Linked DNA regions of Homo sapiens: regions 2, 3, 4 and 5 are each linked to region 1. The links come from fine-mapping of genetic effects on gene expression. A gene starts in region 1. Each other region holds a variant in brackets. All regions are shown on one strand. Distances are between the middles of the regions.

Region 1 (5,107 bases):
GAAAATCTAAGGGGTGCATCTCCATGTCCACCATCGTGTTGAATTCACACTATGGAACACTATATAGCATTAATTAATACAAATTAATAACCTGCAGCTAGCCAGTCAATATGGGTAAATCTCACAATATTGAGAAGGAAAATAAGCAAAAGGAATGCATACAGTATGTTTAAAGTTCACAGGCAAGCAAAATGAAATATTTTGCCCATACATATAGGCTAAAACTACAAATAAAGTCAAAGTAATGTTAAAATATAAAAATGTAAATGGTTGCCAACCTAGGAGGTGAGGATGAGAGAAAGAAATAGAATCAGAAAGGAGCACATAAGAGACTTCAAGAGTCTTGACATTGCTCTGTTTTTAAGCTGGGTAGTGGATACACGGTTTTACTTCGGTGGTTTTTTTCTTTCTTTTATCATTTACAGCTACCTGTTAAAATATTCTTTTATGTAGTTGTTTTGATTTTTAACAAATATCTTCTTTTATTTCAGGAGAAACTGTTTTCTCAAAAGTTCAACCCAGAACCAGGAGCAAATGCAGTAACCAAATCTGTTCTCCTTCCTCCTTGACCCCTTATTGACCAAAATGCTTACAGGCACAGAATTTCCATGGCTGACTCAGCCCAGCTCTCTGTTTTGCCAGGAATATATCATACATATCTCATGAGAATTACTTAGCACCTCTAAGAAAACTTCAATTGTATTTGTTGATGTAAAAACATTAAGGCTTCAAATTCAGAAAGCAAGTATGCATAGAGGAGGCATTACAATGGTATAGTAATTCATAATTTACATTTGAAAAGCCAGAACTTTGAAAGGATAATGATTTCCACAAATGTGTGTTGTAACTGCTGTGCTAGAAATGAGACAGAATCCCAGATTTCCCTGCCACTGCTATAAATTACAGAACAGGAATTAATTTGTGTGGGGGTATTTTTGAGCTACCACCCACTGGTGATTATCAGAGGTGATAATTCTCTTAGTATAACAGGGCTAATATCTTACCAAGATATTTGCTCTGAAAGAGCAAAATACTACCAGTATCAGAAAAGCTAGTATTTCCAGAAAGTACCTTCTGAGGACCTAGAGCTATCTGTTGTTTAGTGGAAGGTCAATACACAAGTTTATATTTCTTCAGAGATGAGCGAAAGATACAAGGAAGCCAGGTCCCAGTGGGTCACACACAGCTTTTCAAGCACGACACACATTACGGAAACATAAGACTGTGGCATTTCACACTCATCTAACTTCTCATTTGCAGACACCTGCCATTTAGCAAAATAAAGTGGGAGTCCAGAAAAAGGAGTACTTGGTAGTAGAAGACAGAGCTGCCTGTTGTATTTCAAAAAGTTAAGCCTTCAAAAACTTTTCAGACATGTGGGCGACTTTTTTTTTTTTTTTTTTTTTTTTTTTTTTTGAGACGGAGACTTACTCTGTTGCCCAGGCTGGAGTGCAGTGGCGAGATCTCGGCTCACTGCAACCTCTGCCTCCCAGGTTCAAGCGATTCTCCTGCCTCAGCCTCCCGAGTAGCTGGGATTACAGGAGCGTGTCACCACGCCCAGCTAATTTTTGTATAAAATTCTTCCTTGACCACCCTCTCCACCTCGAAAAAAAGTAAAGCCTTACTAAGCATGACACTAATGCAAACTCAATGCATACGCTACACAAACATATAACTCCTTATTTGGAGCTAATAATATTCCAAGCCAAGGAAACCTACAAATAATTTCGCTATAGTCATAGGAGAGTGTGAAGATACAAGATAGCAACTTGATATATAACTCACATCAAGAAAACTTTCACCAGCGTTTAAGGGAAAGGAGTTGTAGATGTGGGTCATTTAATACCCACTTCCAAATTCACTGAAGTGGACAGCGCCCTACACACAAGGTGAGACCTACAGGCATCATTGCTTTGAAGCTGCATTTAAGCTCTGAAGCTCCAATATTTATAGAAGACTTTTAAAACTTTGTAAGAAATCACAAAGTTCCCCTTCTTTAAAACAGATCAGTGCTGGGAAGGCTCAAAAGTCACTTTCACTCCCTTACCAAATCATCAAAAAGCCCGGAGTGGCAGGGCCGGGAGCCGAGCATCTCGCGCGCAGCCCCAGCCTGCACAGGTGCGGAGCTCGGGGGCGGCTGGGGGCTCTCGCCCCGCCGCGCGCAGCCTGGAGGCGGCCCCTGCCCTCTTGCGCCTCACCGCCGAGGCCCATGTCCCCTGAGCCACGGACACGGTTCAACAGACACATAAACACGTCTCGCAAATGTGGGGACAAACTGTTCCACCGTTAGGTATAGGGTGGTTTGCTTGGTGGTCACGGATTCTTTCTCAAAACGTGAAGCTTCCAGGAGCACTCCTGTCTTGGCAAAGCCCCTGCGCTGCCGATGAACCCCCCGGGAGGTGGGATGCGGCCGCTGAGCTGAGCACGACCCTCTGCCCTCGCCGTGAGGTGATGCTGAGGGAACCGCCAGCGGCCCGGCCCCTCTGCCAAGGGCGAATTTCCGCGGGCCGGCAGCGAGCCAGGCGCCTCAGGCCCCACGGCGACCTGGCCCGGGCTCTGCCCCCAGACCTTCCGCCGTGGCTGGGTGTGGGTGGCAAAGCCAAAACAGCCCTCTGAGGAGGGGAGCGACGCCCTCGCACCAGCCTTCTCAGGGCGGCGACGCCCCGGGTTGCTCCCCACCGGGTCGGAGTCCGGGGGGTATGAGGGACTCCCACTCCCCGCCCCCACCCCTCTCCGCAGCGCGCCTCCCGCACCTGCGCCGCCGCTTCCGGCCCCGCTGGCCTCCGACACTGCCCGCTGCGCCCGCAACCACGGGAGCACGTCCTTCCCGAGGTCGAAGTCGGCGACCAGGCGAAGAGCCATCGCCCGGACACGACCACCGGGCGGCTCTGGGGCCCCGCACCGCGGGCATTCCCGGCCCCGCGTGGCCGCCTCGCCCTCGCGTCCCCGCTCCCGCCCCCTCTTTCCTCTCCCCCGCCCCCTGCTGCTTTCGGTTCTGCAGCGCCCTGGCCTGAGAAGCTCCGGCACCAGCTCCTCCCGGCCGGCGGCCCGCACCTGAGCCGGAGCCGGAGCCGGGCACGGCGGGTAGCGGTGGGGCGGGGTGGACCAGGCGCCAGGACCAGGCCCGCCGGGGCGGGAGGCCTCCGCGCGCACCTTCGGGGCTGAGGATAGAGGGCGCAAAGACGTGGGCGCTTCAGGGCCTTGGCGAGGCCGCTAGCCCAGTGGCTTCCAAACCTGGAGGGTCGGCCTATTTTCTTTATTCTACAAGTGCCTCCACTGTGCAGCAAAGTGTGGAAACCACTTGGCTTGAGAGAGCTGGGTCCTCTGGAGCAGTTCAGGGTCACCACAGAAGTAGGCCGTCTCTTGGGCCTATTCGCCCCAGCTTCGAGGTGGTGGTGCTTTATTAGTGTTATTAAGGTAATGAGTAGCAACTGGGAGCGTATGACGAAGGTGATCCCATTGTAAGAGAAACGCTAAAAGGGGTTAATGCGCTTGATACAAACAGCGTCCTTTTTGCCTTTTAACTCTAGTACATCTCATTTGATGCCTTGAGACATGAAAACTGAATCTTAAGTCTCCACGCAAACCCTCTGCCTCCCACCAGGGTCTAACAGAGCACTCTGGAAGGTGCTCGACAATTACTGAAGAATGAGTGAATACAGTAATAAAGAATGCTTTTTCACATGCTTCCGAAATTAAGGTCTGAAAACTACTTGTATTGACGTCATCTGGGGCACTATTTTACAATGCAGACTCCTGATCTCTACACCTGGACAAGACCAGAAACGTGCATTTTACCCAGAGCCTCGGGTGATTCTTAGGCTTACTAAGTTTGAAAACTACTCCAACCAAATGTAAAAGAAAGTCTTGAATTTTTTTCCCTCCTAGAGACATGTTTCTCCAACTGAGGTAATGGATGATTTCAGGTAGAACTCCATTACTCACCACCATATACAGAGGAAAGTCCTCCCACCCGGGAAGTGCATGCAAATTTAAGATAAATGCCTAATGAAGCTGCTAATATTATCAGTGAATAAAAGGAAGGCCACTGGAGCCCCCAAGGAGCTAATGCAACTATTTCATATCAAATAAGCTTGTTGCCTTTGTCATACAGAAACACTGTTGGCCAATTTTTTAAAGTCAGTACATTTCCATTGTTTTTATTTTTGCAGTTAACTTCTATTTTTGCCAGGCAGGACTGATTTTATAGTCAAGCAGTGATGATATAAAAAATTCTCTTCAAATTAAGTGAAAAAGCCAATGTAAAGAAGGTGAGAAACAATAAGATAATGATAGAAAGATGTGGCCAAAATCATGAGGGTGCTATATGAAGGCATGTGTATCAGTTAGGATTAGATTCTCCAGAAGTTAATAAGAACTCAGATTAACAGTAAATTAAACACACAAGTTTTATTCTGTCACCTAGCTGGACGTAGGCAGAATAAAGCTCTTAGGGCAGGTTCCTGAATTTATCAGGGACCCAGGCTCCTTCCAGTTCTTTGCTCCACCTGATCCTGAGTGTACCCTTGTCCTCATGATCAAAGAGGGCTGCAGAAGCTTCAGCCTTCACGTCTGCATTCCAGAAATCAGAATGGAAGAAGAGGAATAAAAAGAGGATGCTACCTCTCTTTTAAGGATACTTCCCGGAAGTTCTACACAACATTTCTACGTATGTTTCACTCACCAGAATTTAGTCACATGGCCAAATGTAGCTTTCAAGGGAGGCAAGGAAATATACCTGGCCATTGCTGTGCCCAGATAAAAATCAGGACGGTATTACTGAAGAAGGTGGGGAAAGTAGATATTCAGAAGCAATTAGAGATCTCTGTCAGAGTATGATACCCGATTCCGGCCACTGAGTTGTAAGGAAACCTCTGCTATGACAGATTTCTCTATTCTTAAAACAAGAGACATGGGAAAAGATGGTCCCTTTCAGTCTTTAACTATTTCGGGATCTAGATATGATTGCTGGAATTTCAGCCATCTAGCACACTGAAAATGGAGTCATTGGAGTCAGGAGAGTCCAGAGAACTGCAGAGAAGAGAAACCTTGGTAAATTATTTTTGGAGCCATCCTCTGCCCTTTCTGATATTAGAGATGTTGAATT
Region 2 (5,107 bases), 120 kb before region 1:
TGGAGCCAATATGAGGCACATAAGGAAACCTGTTATAAAGCCAGTTGAAATCTGAATATGTGAACAAATCCAGGCCTCTCAAGGAAAAGACTTCAACCAGGCTTCCTTGTACCCACAGGTGAAAAATGTGAGCATAATACTTCTAATATTATTGATAAGTAAGGTAACCACAATTAGTCAGCAACAGAGTACAACAGGGTTTCTATTTACCCACCAACTACTATACCTTTCATGACGTTGAATGGGACATAGAACTGTCCTACATTTATGTCAAAGTATATATTTGAATCGCTTATATTTTCTTTTTCACTCTTTATATTGAGTACATTCCAGAAATTTGTAGTAGGCAAGGTGCTATAAAAATGCACTAAAAATAAATCTGTTCTCAATGAAGTACGGAAATGGACACAGTGGTCTTTGTTTATTAAAGAAAAAACAAATACTGTTCAATATACACACTTTAAAAAGAAAGAATGGCTATTTGAAAAGGAAAATACCTCAAGTATTGCAAAGGCATAACTCACTTTGTTGAATAAGAAGTAGCACTTAATCTTGGTAAATCTAAATTACATAAAGTAGTGAAGCTTGTCATGGCTTTTTGCATTTTTTTCATTTTATTTTTTTGACAAATAATAATTGTACCTACTCATGGGGTACATACTGAAGTTTCAATACATATAATGTATAGTGATCAGATCAGGGTAATTAGCATATACATTCAAACTTTATCATTTCATTGTGTTGGGAATATTCAATATCCTCCTAGCTATTTGAAACTGTATATTGTTACCTATAGTCATCCTACAGTGGTATAGGACATAGGACTTATTCCACCTATTTCACTGTAATTTTGTGTCTATTAACAAATCTACCCCATTCCTTCCTTTCCTCATCCTTTCCCTTAACCTTCCCAGCCTCTTATATCCGCTGTTCTACTTTTAGCTTCCACATGAGTGAGAACAATTTTTAGCTTCCACACATGAGTGAGAACATGTGGTGTTTAACTTTCTGTACCTGGCTTATTTCAATGAACATAACATCCTCCAGTTCCTTTCATGTTGCCACAAATGACAGGATTTTGTTCTTTTTTGTGGCTAAATAATATTCCGTTGTGTATGTGCATATGTATGTGCATATGTGTGTGTGTGTGTGTAGCTCCCATTTTCTTTATCCACTTATCTGTTGTTGGACAGACACCTAGGCTGATTTCATGTCTTGCCTATTGTGAATAGCACTGCAGTAAACATGGGGGTGCAGATGTCTCTTCAATATTCTGATTTCCTTTCCTCTGGATAAATTTCCAGTAGGGAGATTGTTGGATCATATGTTCGTTCTATTTGTAGTTTTCTGAGGAACTTCCATATCATTCTTCATAGTGACTGCACTAGTTTACATTCTCACCAACAGTGTATATAAGAGCTCCCTTTTCTCTGCATCCTTACCAGCATTTGTTATTTTTTAACTTTTTGGTAATAGCTATTGTAATTGGGGTGGGATGATACCTCATCATGTTTTTTTAATTGCTATTTCCCTGATGATTAGTGATGTTGAGCATTTCTTCATATACCTGTTGGCCATTTGTATGTCTTTTGAGAAATGTCTGTTCAGATCATTTGCCCATTTTTAAGTCAGATTGTTGTTTTTGTAGTGTTTTTTGATGTTAAGATATTTGAGTCCCTTATTTATTCTGAATATGAATCCCCTATTGGATGAGTAGTGTGCAACTATTTTCTTTGATTCTGTAGGTTGTCTTCACTCTGTTGTTTCCTTTGCTGTGCAGAAGGTTTTTAGTTTGATGTAATCTCATTTGTTTATTTTTGCTTTTGTTGCCTGTGTTTTGAGGTCTTATTCATAAAATATTTTCTCAGGCCAATGTCCTGAAGCATTTCTCCTATGTTTTCTTCCAGTAGTTTTATGGTTTGGGGTGCTATATTTAGGTCTTTGATCATTTTGAGTTGATTTTTAAATAGGGTGAGTAGTAGGGAACTAGTTTCATTCTTCTGCATATGGACCTCCAGTTTCCCCAACACCATTTATTGTAGAGACTGTCCTTTTCCCAATAAGTATTCTTGGAACCTTTGTCAAAAATCAGTTGTCTATAGATATATGGATGAATTTCTTGATTCTCTATTTTGTTCCATTGGTCTATGTATCTGTTTTTATCCCAGTGTCATGCTGTTTTGGTTACTAGAGCTTTGTAGTATATTTAAGATGTGGTAGTGTGATACCTCCAGCTTTGTTCATTT[T/C]GTTCAGGATTGCTTTGGCTATTTGGGGTCTTTTGTGGTTACATACAAATTTTAAGATTGTTTTTTCCTATTTTTCTGAAGAATGCCATTAGTATTTTGATAGTGACTACAATCAATCTGTTGATTGCTTTGGGTAGTATTGTCATTTTGTTTTGTTTTATCTATTTTATTTTATTTTATTTTATTTATTTTGGGAGACAGAGTCTCACTCTATCACCCAGGCTGGAGTGCAGTGACATGATCTCAGCTCACTGCAGCCTCCACCTCCAGGGCTCAAGTGATCCTCCCACCTCAGCCTCCTGAGTAGCTGGGACTACAGGTACACACCACCACACCCAGCTAATATTTTTATTTTTTGTAGAGATGGAGTCTCACTAGGTGACCTAGGCTGCTCTCAAACTCCTGGCCTCACGCAATCCTCCTGCCTCAGCCTCCAAAAAGTGCTAGGATTATAAGTATGAGCCACCACATCCAGCCAGAATGGCTATTATTAAAAAGTCACACACACAATAAAGATGTTGGTAAGGTTGCAGGAAAAAGGGAATGCTTAACACTGCTGGTGGGAATGTAAAATTAGTTCAACCACTTTGGAAAGAACTAAAAACAGAACTACCATTTAACCCAGCAATCCCATTACTGGGTATATACCCAAGGAAAATAAATTGTTCTACCAAAAGGACATGTGCACTTGTACATTCATCAAAGCACTATTCACAATAGCAAAGACATGGAATCAACCTAGATGCCCATTAACACTGGACTGGATAAAGAAAATGTGATACATATACACCATGGAATACAGCCATAAAAAGGAACAAAATCACATTCTTTGCAGCAACATGGATGCAGTTGGAGGCCACTGACCTAAGCAAGTCTGAAGCAGAAAACCAAATACTACATGTTCTCACTTAAATGGGGGAGCTAAACAATGAGTACACATGGATATAAAGATGGAAACGACAGACTATTGGGGAGAAGGTGGGGGGAGAGTTGAAAAACTATCTGTTGGGTACTATGCCCACTACCTGGATGATGGGATCATTTGTACCTCAAACTTCAGCATTACATGATTTACCCATGTAAGAAAAAATCTTCTTTAAAGGTTCAGTAGAATTCAGCAATGATGCCATCTGGATTTTTCTTTGTTGGAAGACTATTTTATTTTATATATTTTATTTTATTAATTTATTGTTTTGAGACAGAGTCTCGCTCTGTCACCCAGACTGTAGTGCAGTGGCCAAATCTTGGCTTACTGTAACCTCTGCCTCCCAGGTTCAAGTGATTCTCCTGCCTCAGCCTCCCAAGTAGCTGGGATTATAAGCATGCACTACCATGCCTGGCTAATTTTTGGAATTTTTAGTAGAGATGGGGTTTTGCCAGGCTGGTCTCAAACTCCTGGCCCTGAGTGATCCACCTGCCTTGGCCTCCCAAGGTGCTGGGATTACAGGTGTGGAAGACGTTTTATTACTCATTTAATCTAATTGCTTGGTATTGATCTGTTCAGGTTTTCTATTTCTTCCCAATTCAACCTTGGTAGATTGTATATGTCAAGGAGTTTATTCACTTCCTCTAGGTTTTCTAACTTGACATATAGTACAAAGCACCCTGGAATTATTTTTTGTATCTGTTGTGACATACCCTTTTTTGCTTCTGATTTCATTTATTTGGGTCTTCTCTCTTTTTTCCTTAGTCTAGCTAATGGTTTGTTGAATGTGTTTATTCTTTCAGAAAACCAACTTTTTGTTTTGTTGATCTTTTGTATTTTTTTACTCTCAATTTCATTTATTTCTGCTCTAATCTTTATTATTTCTCTCTTCCTACAATTTTGACTTTGATTTGTTCTTGATTTTCTAGTTGCTTGAGGTATATCATTAGGTTATTTGAAATCTTTCTAGTTTTTTCATGTTAAGTATTTGTTGCTATAAACTTGCTTCTCACTACTGCTTTTGCTGTGTCCCATACGTTTTGGCATGTTGTGTTTCCATTTTCGTTTGTTCCAAAGAATTTTTAAATTTCTTCCTTAATTTCTTTCTTCTTCATTTTGGTCATTCAGGAGCATGTTGTTTAATTTCCATGTATTTGTATAGTTTCAAATGTTCTCATTATTTATGTCTAGTTTTATTCCATTATGGTCAGATATTTGATATGATTTTGATTTAAAAAATAAATTTGGATGCCAGGCAAGGTGGCTCACACCTATAATCCCAGCACTTTGGGAGGCCGAGGCAGGCGGATCACTTGAGGTCAGGAGTTTGAGACAAGCCTGGCCAACATGGTGAAACCCGGTCTCTACTAAAAATATGAAAATTAGCTGGCCATGGTGGCGCATGCCTGTAGTTTCAGCTACTTGGGAGGTTGAGGCAGGAGAATGGCTTGAACCCAGGTGACAGAGGTTGCAGTGAGCCAAGATCGCACCGTTGCACTTCAGCCTGGGCAACAGAGTGAGACTCCATCTCAAAAAAGTGTCTTCATCTCAAAAAAAGTCTCTTTTTGAGACTTGTTTTATTTCTAACCTATGGTCAGTCCTGAAGAATGTTTCATGTGCTGATGAAAAGAATGTGTATCCTGTATTTCACCTGTTGGGTGAAATGTTCTGTAAATGTCTGTTAGGTCCATTTGGTCCATGATATGGTTTAAATCCAGTTTTTCTTTGTTGATTTTCTATATAGATTATCTGTTCAGCACTGAGAATGAGGTGTTGAAATCTCCAACTATTATTGTATTGGGGTCTATCACTCCTTTTAGCTCTTAATATTTTCTTTATATATCTGAGTGCTCTGGTGGTGGGTGCATATATATTTATAATTGTTCTATTGCTGAATTGATCCCTTTATTAGTATATAATGGTCTTCTCTGTCTCT
Region 3 (5,107 bases), 30 kb before region 1:
AAGGGCACAACTTTTATGTCCCAATCTCCGAGTCATTAGTCTCACTAAACTTAGGACAATTTTTTATTATTTCCTAGTGTCCTACCTTTGCATAATATCAGATTAAAAATAGTACTAGTCAAATTTTGGAACATTTATAGTTGAGTTCCCTTTTAGAAATGAAAAGCAAAACATATGCTTCACAGCAATAAAGTCAAAATTATAAAATAGCAATGCAGAATTCAGCTACAAAAATAATACAGAACTAATTGTCTCATAATTTGTAAAATGTCACACATCAAACAAGATACTTTGTATACCAGAGTTGAGGAAAAGCAGAGATGAATGACACCACATATAGGATGGGAGAACAAATGTTCAGTGCCTCAAAATATGGAGATATCTGCTGCTATGGAAGATGGTATGGCCTCCCGGTCTACAGAGGTGGCCAGGGCATGCCTGCTTAGGAATGTGACATGGACTGAGGTGCTGAAGAGGTGTAACTGCCAACCTCTAAACCTCTGCCTGGTCTTCCTGTGACAATCAGGGAGAATGTTATTTTAAAAGTCCCGTTCAGGTAGGTGTTGTTTTTCTTTCTATTATAAGGTGGTCCTAGAGTAAGGCCTGGAAGCCAAAAGTAGACAGGATTCAGACACAGCTCTGCAAAAGCACTCAAGGTTATTTTTTTTGTATTGTAAGTAGGATTCTATGCAGATTATATTTACTTTGAAAAATTTATCTTCACAAATATGGAGCTAGACTTAGAATGAATATTGGTCTTTGGAGGTCTGTAGTCTCGGTGTGTAGAGGGTGTGTAATTACCCACTGGAACTATCTTGAAGACACACCTTGTGCTGGAAGGAAACACTCAAAGGGTCCCGGATTGGGATCCAAGCCCCACCTGCCACTCCTGCTGAAGCTCCTCTGTGTAGGTTGTCAAGACTACACATGCAGAGTTAGGGAAATGTGCTGCTGGAGATCACCATGGATGTTTTTGTAAGAAAAAGGAAATTGATCCCAGGGCAAGACCAACTCAATGGACAGTAGATGTCATTTCTCTAGAGGCAGGAGGGAGAAGGCGGGGATTTGCCACTGGGGTTTAGAGGAGTTTCTCTCTCCAGAGGCAGAGACATGGGGGCAGAAGGCAGGGCTAGGGACTAAGATGGGTCCACAGAATTAGTACAAGTTTTACTTTATTTGGGTTGGGACTTTTCCTTTGGCCTATAGATGCTGTCCTGTTCCATGTACTTCTAACTTTTTTTTTTTTTTTTTGAGATGGAGTTTCGCTCTGTTGCCCAGGCTGGAGTGCAATGGCACGATCTTGGCTCACTGCAACCTCTGCCTCCCAGGTTCAAGCAATTCTCCCACCTCAGCCACCCGAGTAGATGGGATTACAGTAGCATACCACCACGCCCAGCTAATTTTTATATTTTTAGTAGAGATGGGGTTTTGCCACGTTGGCCAGGCTGGTCTCAAACTCCTGAGCTCAGGCAATCTGCCCTCCTTGGCCTCCTAAAGTGCTAGGATTATAGGCATGAGCCACTGCGCCCAGCCACTTTTAACTTTTTAAAACTGAGTTCACATAACATAAAATTTACCATTTTAACCACTTTAATATATACAATTTTTGGTAGATTTTAATATATTCGCAATGTATACAACCACTTGCTTTTAAAAACTTTTCCCCTTTCTATGCTCCAATTCCCTTTAGTTACCCCAATCCTTCAGTCATGTCTCTACCATCTATATGGCCCTAACAAGATGCTAAGGAAGCCAAAGAACAGACCAGAAAAGAGAAGTGTGCTCTGTCCCCAGCCTCCCCACATTGATGACAGTGTAGACGGAGTAGCTTCCTGAGGGTAGGAGAATGCAGCTTGGGAGCTTCAGGCCAGGCCATATCTGGAATTGAGGAGCGACCACAGTGCTGTCAGGAGTGGCGGGGAAATGCGCAGCTGAAAGGACTGGCTGACAGGGGAGGACCCTGGGAAGAGAGAGACAACCCTCTCCCCTAACCCACTGGAATAGGGAGGCCCATAGGGTGGAGGCTGGTAATAGCTTGGGGGACAAAAAGGCAGATACTTTGAGTGGTGCAAATTGACTCTGGCTAGACCAAAAGAAATGATATTTTGACCCTGTAACAAAATGTGAAATTAGGCGAAAGGAAATTATGCTGTAGCACTGTGTGAACACACACAGTTCATTCAAATTATTTGCAGTAGTTATGTTCTGTAAAGTCACCACAAATGTCGTATACTGAATACTGAACCATTGTTTCTAGGGAAATACAAAGGGAGTTGATCATAATCCTGAAAGACACAATCCCAAATGCCATAATCCTAAATATTGAAATCCCAAAAGATCAAAATCCCAAAAATATAATTCTGGAAGAAAATAATTTTAAAAATTATTTAAAAGATGTATTGACATTTTTAAAAGAAGACTTATCTGAGAAGCAAAACACAAAAGAACACTTCATAGTCCACTTTATACAATAAAATAGGCAATAATAACATACACAGTTTTGAAAGTATAGACACTCGTGTATACTAACTATCCTGTGATCATGGCTTTTGGGACTGTAGACTTTTGACCTTTCAGGAT[T/C]TCAACATTCAGGATTATGGTGTTCAGGATTGTCTTTTGGGATTATGATCCAAACCCAAACAAGGATAAATTCTTGGAAGCCTCTAGTCACAGCATGTTTGTCAACAGATCAGTATATAATTTTGTTTTGTGTGTTTCTATTTAAAGACACTCCTTAACCTCATGGCCAACAGCATAGTAACTCATGCCTGAATGAAGCTTATCTGAAACACATGTTTTCTCCCTAAGGCATCTGACAGCCTTCTTGCACTTAGGAACACTAGACGGTGCCTCAGCGCTATTCCTGGAAGCCGTTTAAACTGTGAAATCGCCAGGAAAAAGCACAAAAATTGAAAGATGGAACTAGGCCATGAAAACAACTGTCATTTTAGTATGAGAGCTAAAGCAAAAAAGGCAGGGCATCACCGTGTTCAACCTCAATTGCGAATGTGCATGTTGGGTGACAAATTCTTTCACCACTCAGCATGTATCTGCAAATAACTGACGAAGTACTATAAGTGTTTAATTTAGGGGTTACAAATAAATTTTAGGAGCAGCAGAATATGCAAATATGGAATCTGCAAATAATGAGGAATGACTGTATCTATGCCACCTACATTATACATGCAGTTTCTGCATCAACTCATGAAGTTGATAAATTCAGGGATTAAGCCATTTAACCATAGATACTTAATCTGTCAACCATGCAAATACATTATATTGACCATTTTAAAGCTTACCTTAAATGTGTTTTAATATTTGATATTTTATCATGAGAAAATATTACATTACTAAGAAACAAACAGAGTTGGTGGAGCTAGCTTCGAGTTCTTAATTTCCATGCTTGCAAACAAAGAGCGGATACTTCCAGCCATAGTAGTCTACAAGACTGTTCTGAGGATTAAATATGATAGAGTGAAAGTACTTTGTAAACCCCAATTCTTCTAGGCTGCATGCCTTTTGATTAATGAGATAAGTGATAAATGGCATGCTTACTTACCTGAACCCAAATATAGCTATCCACAGCCTTTAGAACCTTCACATTGTTAACAGGGTGGATTTCAACCAACAAAGTCAAGCACTTTGATCCTACAGAGAAAAGAAGGCTTTTAGTAACGAAGATTGTAATATCACACATTATTTTTTCCAAAGCAAGGAGTAAGAACAATTTCCGGTAAATCCTACTACAGTGACTATAAACTAATAAAACAATTCTACCACCATCCTAGAGTCCTGTGAGGAGACTGAAACTGTAAATCTGTTCCCAGTTCTACTCTCTAGGATGTGTAGCGGCTCCAGGACCCCAAAAGAGCAATCAGCCCAGCAAAGGACCTGCCTTCCACACCCTCAGGAGCCCTGAAGAAGCTGCATTTTATTATGAAAACCACAGGATACTCAAGAAATGCAAATGTGAAAAGGGAAGTCTTTGAACAGCCCTGGAAACAACAGTAGATACAAGGGAGACAAATTTCAGATTATAAGAATTCTGCATTTACAGAAAAGCATCACATTTAAAACACAAGTGGCTTCTGAATTCAAAGATCACTGTATATTACTTTGCACTCTCACCAGCAACATATAAGAGGGCCTAACGGGTTTCTAATGGATATCATTTTTCCCAATTATCACAATTCTATGATTTGCAAAAGCAGACATGTCTGAACTTTCTGAAAATATAAATATGCTAACTATTGTATTAGCTATTCTACCAGGGGGAAAAAAAGGTGATTTTCTTAAAGTTTGACTTTAAAGTTTGACTTTGACATTTCTACAAATTCAACAGAGACACAGAAAAGATCTCAAGGGAGAAATCAATGTGCACGGAGTGAAGAAGTTGTTTGTACTCACTCCATGCCATTTTTAGCATAGCTCCACAAGCCCTCTAGGCTTTTAAGTCTAAACAAACACAGTGCGATTCTCTGTCACTCCAATTCGGCAGCACAATGGCAAATATTGTTTGTGTAGGAAAATAAAAAGATTTCTGATACATGAACATGTTAAGGCTGACAGTATCTATCATTAGGACACAGGCTGGGTTTCCCTCAGGGACAGTGGTATAGCACTGATAATGACCCACTTACTTCTTCAGTGTCACATCTGAGCAAATGCCATAAAATACAGCAATCAGGAGGAAGTCCATGGACACAGGCTTCCCCGCATGGAGTTACCAAAGATATCTAAATTTAGGTCAAGGTTCCCCTTCCCCCAAGATTACACCGTAGAAAAGAAGGACTGGCCTTATATTTGAGCTTTTATTGAGACTCTAATATGATCCAGTGTCTCTCAGTGACTTCACTGTGAAAAATAATATACAAAATTTGGGGATGGCACAGAAGCGTGGAATTTAATCAGTGTTAGTTTTCAATATTTAAGAAAGCAACCTGAGAGCACTGCTTTATTTTTTGAAAAAAGCAAAGAACGTAAAACAATTTCTGAGCTATGTCCTAACAACTGGAAGGTCTGGATCTATCTATAAACATGCCTTTTAAATATTACTTGAAAAAGACAGTAAGTGAGTTATTATATTGAATCATATAATATACATACT
Region 4 (5,107 bases), 51 kb before region 1:
TGCCTATAATCCCCACACTTTGGTAAGCTGAGGCGGGTGGATCACTTGAGCTCAGAAGTTCAAGACCACCCTGGGCAACATGGTGAAACCCCATCTCCACAAAAAATACAAAAATTAGCTAGGCATGATGGCACACGCCTGTAGTCCCAGCTACTTGGTGGGCTGAGGAGGGAGGATCACTTGAGACCATAAGGTTGAGGCTTCAGTGAGCAGTATTCATGCCACCGCATTCCAGCCTGGGTGACAAAGGGAGACCCTGTCTCCAAAAAATTACTAATAACACTGTTAAGAGCTATCTAATTTGCTACTATTTGGAAAAAGTTATTATGTAAAAGTAACAAAGAAGACATGAAAAGTACCTTTATGAATGTAAAACACTGAATATGTGATTTGTCCCCAAGAGGCACACTTCGGGCTGTAACATACACACAAACTTCCTAGAAGAAAAAGGATATTTAGTAGAGTTTAACAGAATCTATGTCATAAATAAAGTTTCCTAAACCACTTAAACTTACTTCTATTCCTTTAGATGTCCTGTCTCATCTTACCTCATAGATTATTCCCAAGTCCTAGAAGTGGTCTATTAACAAGTTGCTAAGAAATTTCAAAGCAGTAATTTTTTAGTGCACACTATATAGCAACATATTGTGGCAGGCTATTGAAGGATAGGAAAATGAACACAGATATACTCCTGCATATGAAATAATGGGGTTCTAGACAGTTTCCAAAGCTTCATGAGATTCTCCTAGTAAGCATGCATTGTCCTCCCTTATCTAGCTTGTCACCTTGCAATTATTACTAACAGCTGTGAACACCAGTTTATCAAAAATGTGTTCATTTCACAGAAAGTTACCAGTCTCTAGTTTATCTTGATTGAAAGGCAAAGTGTGATCTATCTTATGGGTCAGTGAAAACAAATGTGGCATGTGAGTCCATATCCATCCGTAACTGAGTCACTGAAGGCATTGGCCCAAGGCCAAAGGAGAGCTCTTGGCATAGAGTGGCCTTTCCAGGTGAGTCTTGACCCCCTTCACTTACCCCATCACTCCAGAACACCCTCAACTTTCCCCACCTCTCTCAACGCATGAAACTGTACATTATCTCTAGCAGCTGCTGCTGTATGGACTAATGTCCATCAGTGACCTACATACAATTGAGGACAGTATGCTTAAACAGGTATGTCTATCATTTATGTGATTAACTGAAATAGGAGATTGACAGGTAGAAAGTAACTTGACAAGGAGTCAGGAAACCTGAGTTCTAGCCCCAGAGCTAACGTTAACTAGCTGTGTGAATTCAATCGCTACTCTACTTCAGTGGATTTCAATGTTTCCTCTACTTTCCTTCATTAGTTTCTTTATCAAAGAATCGTGGTAGAAAAAAAGTCAGTTTCCCCTAAGAGGGCTATTCAAGGACATTTATAAGTATTCTGTTATAATATTTATCAATTATGACTTTTTAATGACATTTAACACTGCAAAGTATTGTCAGCAGTACATTTTATTGCAATTATCTTAAACACAAAATAGCAAAAAAGAATAACTTCATCAGATAACATGGTAACAATTCTATTAGATGTAAAATGACTGTTACGGTTACTGAGCACACAATAACAACTTTTCTTTACAATTACAGCTGACTCATGACTCACTGAGAATAAAAGTAATCTATCACTAAAGTATAAACAAAATAATAATTATAAGAGTTACAAAAGTCTCATATACCACTTGGACTGCTTTCATACAGTAAACATTATCAGCAAAAAACTACTTGTTTATCCATTCTTTTATATACTATAATCACAAGGAACATGAAATTGCTTAAAAAAAAGACTTTAGATTCTCTAGTAATAAATAAAAATTAAAACAAGGTACCATAATTTTCCTTTAGAAGTAGTTTTTTAAATGATAATGAAATACTGTCAAGGGAGCATGTGCTTCTTACACAATTCTCAAATAGTAGTGAATGAGTCAACTAACACAATATCTCAGAAAAATTCTTTCACAGAGGGTTAAATATATTCATACCTGTTCACC[C/T]AGTAATTCTTTTAGGATTCTATCCTGGGAAATGAACATGATGGCAACATAGATCATAACCTCCATTCTAGCAAACTATCTGCACTCCATCCTTTAGAGAATGAAAGTTTTTCTCATTTTGAAAAAAAGTAAGATGTACATTCTCAGTAAACTATCACAAGAACAAAAAACCAAACACCGCATATTCTCACTCATAGGTGGAAACTGAACAATGAGAACACATGGACACAGGAAGGGGAACATCACACTCTGGGGACTGTAGTGGGGTGGGGGGAGGGGGGAGGGATAGCATTAGGAGATATACCTAATGCTAAATGACAAGTTAATGGGTGCAGCACACCAGCATGGCACATTTATACACATGTAACTAACCTGCACATTGTGCACATGTACCCTAAAACTTAAAGTGTAATAATAAAATAAAATGAGATGTAGAATAAATGTACCTAATTACATATTCTAAGAACCATATCCAGAACTTATAAGCAAATATTTCCAAATTGTTAGGTCATGCTTAGTTGCCCCACCCAATCCCAAAGGGAAAAAAAGACACAGCAAGTTGAAATGGTATGTACACAGGCTCTGTGAAGCTATCCAACAGAACTGTCTTTGACAATGGAAATGTTATATACCTGTATAGTCCAATATGGTGGCAACTAGCCACATGTAGTCACTGAACACTCAAAATGTGGATAATATGACTGAAGCACTATTTATCTGAGACAAAGTCTCACTCTGTTGCCCAGGCTGGAGTGCAGTGGTGCAAACATGGCTCACTGTAGCCTTAACCTCCCAGGCTCAAACAATCCTCCCACTTCAGCCTTCCAAATAGCTAGGACTACATGTGTGCCTGGCTAATTATTTTATTTTTTTTAAGAGATGGAGTCTATGTTACCCAGGGTGGTCTTGAACTCCCTGGGCTCATGTGATCTTCCTACTTTGGCCTCCCAAAGAGCTGGGACTACAGGAATTTTTTTTAACTTCTATTTTCAGTTCAGGGGTACATGTGAAGGTTTGTTATATAGGTAAACTCATATCACAGGGGTTTATTTTTACAGATAATTTCATCACCCAGCTATTAAGCCTGGTACTCAATAGTTACTTTTTCTGCTCCGCTCCCTCCTCCCACCCTCCACTCTCAAGAAGACCCCAGTGTCTGTTGTTCCCTTGTGTTCAGGAGTTCTCATCATTTAGCTCCTACCTGTAAGTGAGAACACTAGGTATTTCGTTTTACTGTTCCTGCGTTAGTTTGCTAAGGATAATAGCCTCTATCTCCATCCATGTTCCCACAAAAGACATGATCTCATTCTTTTTTATAGCTGCACAGTATTCCACGGTATGTATGTACCACATTTTCTTTATCCAATCTGTCACTGATGGGCATTTAGGTTGATTCCATGTCTTTGCTAACATGAATCACGCTGCAATTGACATTTGCATACGTATATCTTTATGGTAGAATGATTTTTATTCCTCTAAGTATATACCCAGTAATCAGATTGCTGGGTCCAATAGTAGTTCTGCTGTTAGCCTTTGAGTAATCACCATACTGCTTTCCACAATGGTAGAACTAACTTACACTCTCATCAACAGTGTATAAGTCTTCCCTTTTCTCTGCAACCTTGCCAGCAACTGTGGGTTTTTTTTTTTTTTTTTTTTTTTTACTTTTAATAATAGCCATTCTGACTGGTATGAGATGGTATCTCATTGTAACCTCTATCTGCATTTCTCTAATCCTCAGTGATACTGAGTTTTTCACATGCTTGCTGGCCACATGTCTTCTTTTGTAAAGTATCTGTTCATGTCCTTTGCCCACTTTTTAATGGAGTTGTTTTTGTCTTATAAATTTAAGTACCTTGTAGATGCTGGATACTAGGCCTTTGTCAGATGCATAGTTTGCAAATATTTTCTCCCAATTCTGTAGGTCGTTTGGTTTACTCTGTTAGTTTCTTTTGCTGTGCAGAAGCTCTTAAGTTTAATTCGATCCCATTTGTCAATTTTTGCTTCTTTTGTGATTACTTTTGATGTCTTTGTTATGAAATATTTGCCCATTCCTATGACTAGGATGGTATTGCCTACGTTTTCTTTCAGAATTTTTATAAATTTTGGGTTTTACATTTAAGTCTTTAATGCATCTTGAGTTGATTTTTGTCTATGTTGTAAGGAAGGGTTCCAGTTTCAATTTCTATATATGGCTAGCCAGTTATCCCAACACCATTTATTGAGTAGGGAGTCTTTTCCCCATTGCTTTTGTCAGCTTTGCTGAAGATCAGGTAGTCATAGGTGTGCAGCCTTATTTCTGGGTTCGCTATTCCATTCTATTGGTCTATGTGCCTGTTTTGGTAACAGTACCATACTGTTTTGGTTACTGTAGCCCTGTAGTATAGTTTGAAGTTGGGTAACATGATATCTCCAGCTTTGTTCTTTTTGCTTAGGTGTACCTTGGCTACTCAGGCTTTTTTGGTTCCATATGAATTTTAAGACAGTTTTTTCTAGTTCTGTGAAGAATATTGATAGTTTGATAGGAATAGCATTGAATCTGTACACTGCTTTGGGCAGTATGGTCATTTTAATGATATTGATTCTTCCTATCCATGAGCATGTTTTTCCATTTCTTTGTAACTTCTGATTTCTTTGAGCAGTGTTTTGTAATTCTCATTGTAGACATCTTTAACTTCCCCTCCCTGGTTAGCTGTATTCCTAGGTATTTTATTCTTTCTGTGGCAATTGTGAATGGGATTGCCTTTCTGATTTGGCTCTTGACTTTGCTCTTGTTGGTGTAAAGAAATGCTAGAGATTTCTGTACATTGATTTTGTATCCTGAAAGTTTGCTGAAGTTGTTTATCAGTTGAAGGAGCTTTTGGGCTGAGACTATGGGGTTTTCTACAGAATCATGCCGTATGCAAACAGGGATAGCCTGACTTCCTCTCTTCCTATTTGGGATGCTCTCTTGCCTGATTGCTCTAGCTATGACTTCCAATACCATGTTGGATAGGAGTGGTGAGAGAGGACATCCTTGTCCTGTGCCAGTTTTCAAGGGAAATGCTACCAGCTTTTGCCCATTCAGTATG
Region 5 (5,107 bases), 100 kb before region 1:
GGTGCAAGTGTGCAAGGCATGTACACAGCAGATGGAGCTGGCTAAGGCTCTCCAGGTCAGGAAGTTTGCAGAGTTAGAGGCTCGGAAGACCTTGCTGTGGAATTTCATATTTTCATAGTATCTCTGACTCTAAGTGTTGATATTCCCTTGTGTTTCTCATTCTTCTTTTGACCTAGGAATGTCTTCCTACCATGTCATATTTTCATAGTATCTCTCACTCTAAGTGTTGATATTCCCTCATGTTTCTCATTCTTCCTTTGACCTAGGAATGTCTTCCTACCATGGTAGAAATGCAGTAAGGGGAAATACAGGTCTAGAACCTTCTGTCCTCACCTGTATTCCAATGTATCCAAGTTAAATCTGTTTAAATGCCAAAAGCACGTTTCCCCTTCTCCCTCCCTCTCAGACTCAGATGTAAATATTAGTGTGGTTTCCTAAGAGGCAAAAATGGCTTAATGTTCTCACTGGACTGTGCCAAGGCAGTGCAGAGCCAGAGAGCAAGTGCTTTGTAGGCCAAGTGGGAAACAGCTAACAGAGGGCTGGGGACGGGTGGGATTTCTTGGAAGTGTTGAAAAGTGAAACAATTCAATTGACTTTAACCCAAAGCAAGTAAATGCTCTTTTTGCAAGAAGAAATTGAAGGAGGGTAATGCCAAAGCTTAGGGAGAAAATAAAATGTAACTCAGTATTACCGGAGGAAGCCGCACAATGATACTGAATTTCAGTTTTTCATTTTTCTCTGTATTATCCAGATCTACAAGAAAGTTAGAGATTAGCAAATGAAACAAATACCCATTTTGATACTTTAGCAAGTTAATATTAATACTTGAGTGGTTCATCTTGATAGGACATATCCCAACTGTGTATTCTCAAGCTAATCTAACAGCATTTTGGAAATTTTACTCTGACTCTCTGAATAAAAAGGGATTTTTCTATAACAGGCTGCCAGGTACAAAGCAATTTTATTGACTAACTTAAAACAGAAGGTACCTTGAGGAATGACAAATGCTTTCATATAAACAAAAATCATCTTAAAATACAATTGAATAATTTGAGTGATTATACTACAGAATTTAAAGTTCAAATTCATTTAATTGCCCCTCTCAATAATTTTCCTTGCATTTCTAGTCTAACTTTGAGATGACAGAGTTAATCAGCTGAAAATAAGCCATTTCGTGACATTTTCTTGAGAAACAAGCCTGCAGAGGTTCCTAGCCTCAAGTGCCCTCTTGCACAGAAAAGGAATCTAATAGTTGTATGTGGATTGAAAAGTCCCTTAGGACCTCGTGAAGGGCTCAGAAACCTTAAATTGGCCCAAAAGATGATTACAGGGAATGGATTGTGCTCACAGGACCAGCTGTATAATTTGTGGGGCTCAGCACAAAATGAACACGAGCAAGCCCTCGTTCAAATACTACTAAGAATTTCAAGATGTAATGCAGCATTAAACTGAGCAGGGCACTCTTCTGAGTGCAGCCAGGCTCTTGGTGACTGCACAGGTTGCACACCCAAGAAGCTAGCCTTGGTGGTGCTCAGGCTGGAACTAGCACTCTGGCAAACTCAGGGCTTCTTACCTTTCATGAGCCTTATGACAGCTGTTTCAGTGAGAAGCAACACTCCACTGTCAATGCAATGCAGCAGGTTATGCAAAGGGAGACACTGGACCCCGAGGATGGTGTGCAGAGTATGAAAACCTAGGATGAGAGATCTGGAGGGTAAACACAGTCAGCCAACATCTCCAGCAGCCCCCGGGGAATGGATTAGATCATGTTAATAAAGCACTTAGTTCAGTGCTTGGTGCCTGGAACCAACTGAATTTCTTGAAAACAAGGTCCAAGTTTCCTTCTCTGTATTATTCGTAACTAAATATCACGCTGGGTCTATAGTAAGTTTCCGGTAAGTATACATTCCTTGCTCCTTGGGTCTCTTCCTGCACAGAAACAGAGCAAGGGCCTGCTCAATGGTTTTACGGTTTGATATGTTTGTGATTCTACAGTAAGATAGCAAAAGAGTA[C/G]AGAAGCATTTCAGATTTCGTATGTCCAGACTAAAAGGTTGTTGGGATGAGGACCATTTTGCTGAAGGGAAACAAATTTGGACCAGAAGGCAATAGTTTATATGGCTTATCTCTGGGTATGCCCTAGAGAAAGGCTTTTAGAGTCTACTTGGACTAAAGTATAGAAAAGAAAGAATTAAGACAATATGGCCAGATAGTAAATTTATAGGAATTCAATTGAGAGGCAGGCATTCTCAAGCCTGTCTCACGGGTAGAGCTACCCACAGAAACCCAGATCTCTAAGTATACTACTACTGACAACAGATAAAAACATCATGCATGGGAGAAGGTATCAGACCAGGAGAGAATCAAAACAGCTCTCTTGGAAGTGATGGCATTTGCGGGGAGCTTCAAAGGACAGATGCAATTCCTATCAGTGGAAATGAGTGCGGACAGTAGAAAAAGCCAGGTTTGGCATGAGCAGCCCTAGGCCAGAATCCAGCTGTATTACTCACCAGCTGCAGGCAACTAAGCCTTTCTGAGCCTCCATTTCTTCATCTCTAAATTGGAACCACCAGTACCTTTCCCACAGGGCTGCTTTGAGAACTAGAGCCAGGTCTGTGAAGAGCCTAGCATGCAATATAACAATAGCGACCCATACTGGACATGTACCAAGGCTTTCAACCTGTGTCCTGGCTCATCTGATCCTCATACAAAAGTATGGGGTGGGAATTACTAGATTCCCATTTCATAAATGGAAAAACCAAAAGCCAAGATTCACAGGAGCTAGGCAACTTGCCCAGGATCACAGAAATAATAATGTGTAAGTTGAAATTTGCATCAACTGTGTGATTGTAGGGTAGGCTTTCAACCATAATGTCACTGTTAATAACTGGCAGCTGTGTTAATAGAACATGAACAGAGGTCCGAAGATGAGAAAGCACAGGGCATATTCAGAAAATAGTAAATGATCCAGCTGGGTTGGAATCATATTAGAGGAGAGAAAGATTAAGAGGTAAGGTTGGAAAAGCTAATTTATTCAGCACATCCCTTCCACACACCTGGCAAGGGGCTAAGAGTATAAAAATGAGCAAAACAGGCACAACTGCTGCTCCCATACACCTTGCAGTCTGCTGGGGGAGGCAGACAATCAATTACAAAAAATAGACATTTTTAAAAATGTGACCAGTTCTGTGCTTATGAGTGCAGGTGACAGAGGTTGAATGCTGAATGATAGAGATTTATTAATTTGAGAGACTTTGAGGAGGTAATGAAAGTTTTTAAGCAGAACAGAAGATTTACCATTGGGATATTAATATGGCAACAGGCAAAGAATGAGTTGGAGTAATAATTTGCTACAGAAGGTATGAAGACCTGTAGAGAAGCTATTGCCTGAACGTGGATAAGAGGTAATGGAGGCACTGAATCAGAGAGGCATGGTAACATGTACAGGCTTTGCAACTCATTGAATGTGGGAATGACTGACAGAAGAATCATAGCCTACTCTTGGGAAGGTACCTGACAAAAGGATGATGCCCAACGAGCAGGGCTTGGATTCAGAGAAATCATGGGATTTTCTCTCTCTAAACACATGAATCACAAGCCATGGGGCACAGTCCTAAGTCCTTGTAACATCAAGGGTCAGATGAAGTACAGGCTCTGCCCACAAGCATGTGTTAATGGGCTAACAGGATGAGTCCACTAGCTTCCCTGAGTCCAAAAAAACTCCACTATTTTACTAGTTAATTAACAACAACGTTTTTCAAATGGATTTGGAAATTCTTCACAAAACTATTAGTAAAAAGTTACAAAATTATTTCTGAAGAAAAGTTTACACTAGATTATTGATGATATTGATTTTCTGGATTCAAATTTCCCTCTCCAGCCCTGTGTTCATATGCTAAAGGTCCCTGATGACCCTTCATCCTCTATCCCCAGGGCACAGTCCCAAGTTCAGGGACCTGTTCTTGGCCTCTATACATCAGCTCTGAGCAACAGAGCAAATTGGCTATAATTAGTCATCAGCTCCACCCAACTTTAATCCTCATCTTCCAGGGCTCCTGGCCTCCTCTAGCCAGCAAGTGCAATACAGTTCCTTTTTTTAAAAGCAAATGCCCTAGCTCTAAACCCTGACTTCCTTTTTGTGTTCCCCATTCTCTTCTTAACTTTAACCAATTCATGTTACAAGTCTCTGACAATCGTAACTCAAACAGTCATCATTAGTCCAATAGGCCTGGAAAGCAAGCACACTTACGCATGTGCATATAGAAACACCCTGAATTCATACAAGCATGCACATGCACACACACACATGATCCAGTGTCACCTCCCCCCTCTATTTCCATGTCACATGATGGAAATAAACATTCAAGAGAAAAGGAGAGAGCATGGAATACTATGCAGCCATAAAAGAGGATGAGTTCATGTCCTTTGCAGGGACATGGATGAAGCTTGAAACCATCATTCTCAGCAAACTATCCCAAGGACAGAAAACCAAACACCACACATTCTCACTCATAGGTGGGAATTGAACAATGAGAACACTTGGACAAGGGTTGGGGGGGAACATCACACACTGGGGCCTGTCGTGGGGTTGGGGGCTGGGGGAGGGATAGCATTAGGAGAAATACCTAATGTAAATGACGAGTTAATAGGTGCAGCAAACCAACATGGCACATGTATACCTATGTTACAAACCTGCACGTTGTGCACATGTACCCTAGAACTTAAAGTATAATTAAAAAAATGAGAAACACCTTTTCCTTACCTGACCCACAGACACAAGCCATAAGTCTACTTATAATAATTCTCGATCACTATGGATAACATCTTTGTTTTCCCTCCTTATCACTGTGAAGGAATGTGAGTTGGGTAGAAAGTGGATTTTTATGATCTCCAGGCGTAACAATGTCCCCAGTAAGTCAGTTTCATTTATTTTCAAAAGAAGCTTGAATATCTGTAATGAACAAATCTAAAACTGTCAATCCATTTCCCTACCAAATTTTTTGTGTTAACAACAAACAATTAAGAATTTAAGCCACAAAGGTAGTTTTCCTGTAATCCTTCAATCTTTCTAGGGTGTACCTCATAACTCATATTCCATTGGGATAATTTT

Direction of the effects. Positions count from the first base shown, and alleles are read on the strand shown. Sizes are in standard deviations (SD) of each study's normalised expression. Not every link is listed here.
For the expression in whole blood of the gene that starts at base 2,890 in region 1, T is the low allele of the variant in region 4 and C is the other (small effect, 0.33 SD a copy in GTEx).

Evidence for each region.
Region 2: its variant is fine-mapped to the expression of GSAP in whole blood (INTERVAL, PIP 0.91).
Region 3: its variant is fine-mapped to the expression of GSAP in subcutaneous fat (GTEx, PIP above 0.99).
Region 4: its variant is fine-mapped to the expression of GSAP in whole blood (GTEx, PIP 0.96).
Region 5: its variant is fine-mapped to the expression of GSAP in whole blood (INTERVAL, PIP above 0.99).

The regions. Positions count from the first base shown.
Region 1 is chr7:77,413,460-77,418,566 of GRCh38, forward strand. GSAP (gamma-secretase activating protein) reads right to left here and starts at 2,890. Exons shown (of 31, transcript NM_017439.4): 1 at 2,754-2,890. The coding sequence starts at 2,862. LOC101927243 (a long non-coding RNA gene) reads left to right here and starts at 1,739. Exons shown (of 5, transcript NR_110073.1): 1 at 1,739-1,889. RefSeq lists silencers at 2,056-2,345, 2,406-2,615, 2,836-3,185.
Region 2 is chr7:77,294,812-77,299,918 of GRCh38, forward strand. It overlaps CCDC146 (coiled-coil domain containing 146), which reads left to right. Exons shown (of 19, transcript NM_020879.3): 19 at 1-393. The coding sequence ends at 55. Among named protein-coding and RNA genes, the nearest start is that of CCDC146-AS1, 49 kb to the left of the region's middle. The variant T/C (reference allele first, on the strand shown) is at 2,247.
Region 3 is chr7:77,383,801-77,388,907 of GRCh38, forward strand. It overlaps GSAP (gamma-secretase activating protein), which reads right to left. Exons shown (of 31, transcript NM_017439.4): 6 at 3,560-3,648. Among named protein-coding and RNA genes, the nearest start is that of GSAP, 30 kb to the right of the region's middle. The variant T/C (reference allele first, on the strand shown) is at 2,581.
Region 4 is chr7:77,362,224-77,367,330 of GRCh38, forward strand. It overlaps GSAP (gamma-secretase activating protein), which reads right to left. Exons shown (of 31, transcript NM_017439.4): 13 at 360-437. Among named protein-coding and RNA genes, the nearest start is that of GSAP, 52 kb to the right of the region's middle. The variant C/T (reference allele first, on the strand shown) is at 2,037.
Region 5 is chr7:77,312,797-77,317,903 of GRCh38, forward strand. It overlaps GSAP (gamma-secretase activating protein), which reads right to left. Exons shown (of 31, transcript NM_017439.4): 27 at 1,574-1,693; 28 at 692-753. Among named protein-coding and RNA genes, the nearest start is that of CCDC146-AS1, 67 kb to the left of the region's middle. RefSeq lists an enhancer at 3,296-3,797. The variant C/G (reference allele first, on the strand shown) is at 2,014.